Linked DNA regions of Homo sapiens: region 2 is linked to region 1. Evidence: fine-mapped expression QTL. A gene starts in region 1. The other region holds a variant in brackets. All regions are shown on one strand. Distances are between the middles of the regions.

Region 1 (2,727 bases):
AAGTATGAGGATGAAAAAAGTTAGCATTCATGGAATGAGGCACTGAAGAAACTGAAAAGCTGAAATAACCCCATGAAATAATGAGAATAATTGTAGTATTCTGAACCGGGGCACAGGACACAGGACCGGGGTGGAAGGCGGCACGAGACTACGCGCGTGGGAAAGACCCAGGGATCACAGTGGCCCAAAGCTGGGCACTTCCCAATTCCGGGATTTGTGCTACAGGCACTCCAGGCTCCACCTTAGAACTGTGTCCAGCACGAAGGCAGTGCTGTCTTGCGGGAGGCAGGGCTGCACCACCACCGGGGTGTGAAGGGGCCCAGCAGGCAGGGGTGTGAAGGGGCCCAGCAGTGTTTCCAGCTGCACGGGGTCAGGGGCCGCGCTGATGCAGAGCACGGGGGCGCAGGTTAAACCTAAAGGAGGGAAGCTTTTGGGGGCGGAACAGACAACCGAGAATGCTGCACACTGCCTTTCCCACCCGAATTGTGTTTTGACTTTTTTTTTTTTTTTTTTTTGAGACAGAGTTTTGCACTTGTTGCCCAGGCCTGGAGTGCAATGGCCCGATCTCGGATCACTGCAACCTCCTCCTCCCGGTTTCAAGCAATTCTCCTGCCTCAGCCTCCCGAGTAGCTGGGATTACAGGTGTGCACCATCACGCCCGGTTAGTTTTGTATTTTTAGTAGATACGGGGTGTCTCCCAATTGGCCAAGGCTGGTCTCGAACTCCCGACTTCAGGTAATCCACTGGCCTTGGCCTCCCAAAGTGCTGGGATTACAGGCGTGAGCCACCGCGCCCGGCCTGCTTTTGCTTTCTTTTTTTTTTTTTTTTTTTTGGCAGAGTCTCGCTGTCCACCCCTGTAGTGCAGTGAGCTCGGCTCCCTGCGGCCTTGACCTCCCGGGCTCAGGCAATCCTCCCGCCTCAGCCCACGGAGTAGATGGGACCACAGGAGCCCACCACGCCCGACTACTTTTTGTAATTTTTGTAGGGATGGGGTCTATCCATGCTGCCCAGGCTGGTCCGAACTGCTGGGCTCAAGAGCTCCGCCCGCCTCCGCCTCCCAAAGGGCAGGGATCACAGGTGTGAGCTACCGCGCCCCGCCCAGAGTTTCCGACTGTTAGCAAATCACATTCACCTCAAAACTATTTATACAAGAACTGAAAGGCAAACTAAGTCCGTGCTCCATCACTTCCTGTCCCAGGTCGCGGGGCCGGACATTTTCTCCAAGCGCTTTCCTGGCACAGCGCGCAGGCGGCCTGCGCCAAAGCTCTGGCTTCCTCCAGGCGCCCAGACCCCGCCCTCCCCGCAGGCGCCAGGGCGTTGCCTGGCAACTTAGCTGCGAGGGGATTGGCTGCGCGGGACCCCGTGACCATCCCGGAGACCACGCATTTCCTGCGCCCCCGGAAGTGGTGATAATGCCAGGCCCTGCCCCCGGCAGAGGCGGAAGCGGAGTCGGCCTGAGAGGTCTCTCGTCGCTGCAGGCGCCTCAGCCCAGCCGCGTGCCTTGGCCCATGGCCGCCTACTCTTACCGCCCCGGCCCTGGGGCCGGCCCTGGGCCTGCTGCAGGCGCGGCGCTGCCGGACCAGAGCTTCCTGTGGAACGTTTTCCAGAGGTGCGGCCTGGCACCGCCCGGGCACCTCCCGCCTCCGCCGCGGCGGCCCCGACCCCTGTCCCGACTCCCCCGACCAACCCCGTTCCCTGCCGGTTCTACTGCGGCCTCCTCCGTCCCCTGTCGGGTCCCCCGCGGCCCCCTCCCGTCCCCTGCCGCCGCCCCCGACCCCTGCCCCAGCCGACGCGGCCGCCCCCGTCCCCTGGCGGGTCCCCCGCGGTCTCCCCCGTCCGCTGCCCGGTCTCCTGGGGCCGCCCCTGCCTCCTGCCCGGTCCCTGTCCTGTGCGTCGGGCCCTTCCCAAGATGCAGAGTGCGCCACTGCAGACCCGAGGTCGCGGCCACCGGCTCCTGGGCTAGGCCCTTTTTCTCGCCTCAAGAGCCGCCAGGTGGAGGGTCTCCAGGGTGCTTGTTTGGGGAAAGCGGAAACAGACTGCCTGGGCGCTGTTAAAATGTCAGCAGCCAAGGAAGAAGCAGCGACCTGGCGTCTGCTCGGGCCAGGTGACCTTTATGGCGGCGCCTTCTGTCCCTGGTCGCTTTTCCACCGAATGTCCGAAACTGTAGTGACTGATGGCCAGGGAATGGCTTAGTTATCTGAGGGAATCTTGTCTTGTCTGTGAAAAAGGGAAACGGGTGCAAATGGGAATTCAGACAGGCCAGGAGAGGAAGGAAGGGAAGGATTGAGGTGAAGATGATTGTCCTCTTAGGGGAAGACCACACTGGACGTCGGCTCCTGGGGCACTTCCTTGATTCCGCTGTACTCCTCAGCGGGACGGGAGAGGCGGAGGTTCCAGGAGGGAGCCTTCCAGAGTCGGTGCAGGGTTGACAGAAGACGTTTGTTTTGCTTTTCCTGAACTTTCGATCGCCAGCTTATTTGGTCTTCTTGATGTTATAGGGTCGATAAAGACAGGAGTGGAGTGATATCAGACACCGAGCTTCAGCAAGCTCTCTCCAACGGTGAGTGGGCCAGTGGGAACTGGGTCTCCGGACCAAGAAGCCGCGAGCCTGCCCTGTTCACAGTGGATAACTTTCTGAAGTTGTTTTTCCAAGGACAAAGGAATCATTAGGACAAATTGTTATTACTGCTTCGTAGTGGAGATGCTTCTGGTTTATTTTGTGGCTAC
Region 2 (3,015 bases), 40 kb after region 1:
GTGATGGCCGCCGTCCCCGTGCACACCAGTGATGGCCGCCGTGCCCGTGCACCCCAGTGATGGCCGCCGTCCCCGTGCACACCAGTGATGGCCTCTGTCCCCCATGCACTCCCAGACAGGCAATGTCCCTGTGGGCCTGTCCCAGGCTCTGTTCTCAGCAGGCTGGGCTCAGCCCTGGTGCAGGGAGTGAGGAGGTGGGAGTAGTAGGGACCAGAAAAAGTGGCAGCTGTTGACAACTCTGCCATCTCTTTCTGAATGTAATGGGAGGTCCTGTCTTTTCAGCTTGCAAGGAAGGAGGGTCCGAGGCAACTCCGCTGTTGCACATTTAGGGACCCCTGAACTTAAATGACAGAATGCCCTGACCACTCTGGAAGGCACTGTGTTCATGTTTGTGTGCTTGACTCTTGATCCGTAAAATGGCTGTTTGTGCAGGTCATTAACTGTGAGATTCAGAGAGTAGGTGCACACGTCCCTGCAGAGATTCCAGCAGGACTGAAAACCAGTAGAAATATATCAGCACCTGGATCTTGCCTCCTGAGTCAGTAAGGATATGCCACAGTCACGAAGGCAGTGGGATTTCGAGGGAGGGAAGGGAAGGCGGCAGGCGGGGCATGCCCTCCGGGGTGCCCGAACACACCTGCTGCATCCACATGTCTTCAGAGCCCTCTCCCTGTGGGAGGCCTTTTTCAGGACAGCCTTGGTGAACTGGAAACGGAATCCCAGCCCTTGGTGGCCCTGCAGTGACTTGGACCTTTCCGAGGTCACCCTGCCACTGCGTGCCCTTCAGTCCCTCCTGGCAGGTGGGGGCACATCCCCCAGCCACTCCCATTTCCTGACATTGTCACTTTGTATAACTGGAAGCCTTCTGTGAAATTTTAGTTTTCAAAGCATTATCTGGTGATGGGCAACCCAGGGCAGCGAATCATTCAGAATTTTCTTATCTAGGCTAATAAACATAATAAAATCAATAAGGACTTTGAAAGTAACTCCACTGGGTTCAGGAAACTGAGTGTGGCCGCCCTGTGGGGTGGTGTTTGGTGAGTGCTTCCCGGAGGTGAGTAGTTAATTCACAGGAGTGACTAATGGCAGCGTCCCACTCACTCCTCCTTCCGGGGTCATGGTCTCAAGGGGTCACTCCATGCACTGGGGATGTCAGCTCATTACAGAATGATATATTCGGGAAGTGTCTCAGTTCTGAGTGCCTTTGAGGGAATTTGCACTTCCGTTCCCACACAGCCTTGCATTGTGTGTGTTAGAGGCTGTGGGCCTTGGGCAGGAGGGGTGAGTGTTGGCACATACCTCCCGTCTCTCCCAGCCTTCTCTGACTCTGACTTTCCCTCTTGAAGGCTACCGGCTCTCTGACCAGTTCCACGACATCCTCATTCGAAAGTTTGACAGGCAGGGACGGGGGCAGAT[T/C]GCCTTCGACGACTTCATCCAGGGCTGCATCGTCCTGCAGGTGACGGAATGGCTTCACGTGGGTTTGTGGTGGTGGTGGGAGGGGCTTGCTTGCCAGCGTGATGCACCTGACCTTCAATCTAAGGAGCTGGGCATGTGTAGAATTAGTTTTTGGAGCTTATAAAAGTGAGTCTCATCTTTGGAGAAGTAGCCGGTTAGTGAAGTGTGGACAAACATGTTTTCCTCCCCTTGGAAATGGCACAGAGCAGCCCATCTGCAAGACGTGGTTTTTCAGTATCCGGTGGGTTATTTACATGTATGTTCTGGTGTTGTGGTTTTTTTTGTTTTTTGTTTTGTTTTGTTTTGTTTTGAGACCGAGTCTCGCTCTGTCACCCAGACGGGAGTGCAGTGGCACGATCCCGGCTCACTCCCACCTCTGCGTCCCGGGTTTAAGCAATTCTCCTGCCTCAGCCTCCCCAGTAGCTGGGATTACAGGTGACACCCAGCTAATTTTTGTATTTTTAGTAGAGACGGGATTTTGCCATGTTGGCCAGGCTGATCTCAAACTCCTGACCTCAAGTAATCCGCCCACCTTAGCCTCCCAAAGTGCTAGGATTACAGACATGAGCCACCATGCCTGGCCAACTATGGTGTATTTTTACAAAAACTTTTATTCTGAGAAAATGGGCACGTTTTCTGTTGTGGTCATCACTGTGTCCTGCCGTCTGTGTGTGAGGTCAGCTGTGGAGCCTGTGGTCGCTCAGGCCGCCCTCAGTGGGGTCTCCGAGCTCTTCCCGTGCACTCCAGTGTCTGCAGGAGCTGGTAATGCACCCTGACCTGCAAGGCAAGCTCCTTGGTGGTGTCTCTCCTGCTGGGCTCTCTTTGAGACCCACGGGAGATGGAGAGCAGGGCTCAGGGGACCCGCCTGGGAGCTCCACACAGACCTCTGCTGCTGTTTGCAGGTGGTGATCCAGGTCTCTACCCAGGTTCCTCAAGGTCCTGTCTTGTTGGCCTTGGAATTCAGTGAGAGATAGGAACAGCATGGGGTTTTTAGAAATAATGTGGAAATTTGGAAAACGTTCCCAAATTGTTTATTCTGTATAATAATTAAGATGCTAGATCTGTAAAAGTGAGTTTCCTCTGATTTGGCATGGATGCATCAGTCCCTGTTCTTCAGGGATTTGTTGGAGAACCAGGTCTGTGAACATGGAAGCTTCAAAACTCTACGGTTGGGGACCCTTTCCTGCCCCTGCCTCTCGGGGTTCCTGCCAGGTTGGATGACATTTTTACAATGTTCTCTGAACACTTTCAAAAAAGTGTAGGCTGGGCCTGGTGTCGCATGCCTGTAGTCCCAGCTACTCAGGAGGCTGAGGCAGGAGAATCACTTGAACCCGGGAGGTGGAGGTTTCAGTGAGCCGAGATCACACCACTGCACTCCAGCCTGGGTGACAGAGCCAGACCCTGTCTTAAAAAAGAAAGAAAAGAAAAAGGGAAAAGATGCCGTGTAAAATCTCGTTCTGTGTCTGAATTGCCGTAGGGCTCAGATCTTCATTTGAGGTTCTGTGTCTGAATTGCCGTAGGGCTCAGATCTTCATTTGAGGTTATGTTCTATAAGTTAAC

What was found. PIP is the estimated chance that this variant, and not a neighbour inherited with it, causes the effect.
Region 2: its variant is fine-mapped to the expression of PDCD6 in cerebellum (GTEx, PIP above 0.99). The same link has a PIP of 0.9 or more in aorta, esophagus muscle, fibroblasts and thyroid.

The regions. Positions count from the first base shown.
Region 1 is chr5:270,213-272,939 of GRCh38, forward strand. It overlaps PDCD6 (programmed cell death 6), which reads left to right and starts at 1,434. Exons shown (of 6, transcript NM_013232.4): 1 at 1,434-1,609; 2 at 2,499-2,560. The coding sequence starts at 1,509. It overlaps PDCD6-DT (PDCD6 divergent transcript), which reads right to left and starts at 1,312. Exons shown (of 2, transcript NR_104613.1): 1 at 1,133-1,312. It overlaps PDCD6-AHRR (PDCD6-AHRR readthrough (NMD candidate)), which reads left to right and starts at 1,434. Exons shown (of 13, transcript NR_165163.2): 1 at 1,434-1,609; 2 at 2,499-2,560. RefSeq lists enhancers at 1-475, 1,137-1,226 and a silencer at 1,517-1,726.
Region 2 is chr5:309,947-312,961 of GRCh38, forward strand. It overlaps PDCD6 (programmed cell death 6), which reads left to right. Exons shown (of 6, transcript NM_013232.4): 5 at 1,347-1,456. The region is part of intron 3 of PDCD6-AHRR (PDCD6-AHRR readthrough (NMD candidate)); the gene reads left to right. Among named protein-coding and RNA genes, the nearest start is that of AHRR, 10 kb to the right of the region's middle. The variant T/C (reference allele first, on the strand shown) is at 1,417.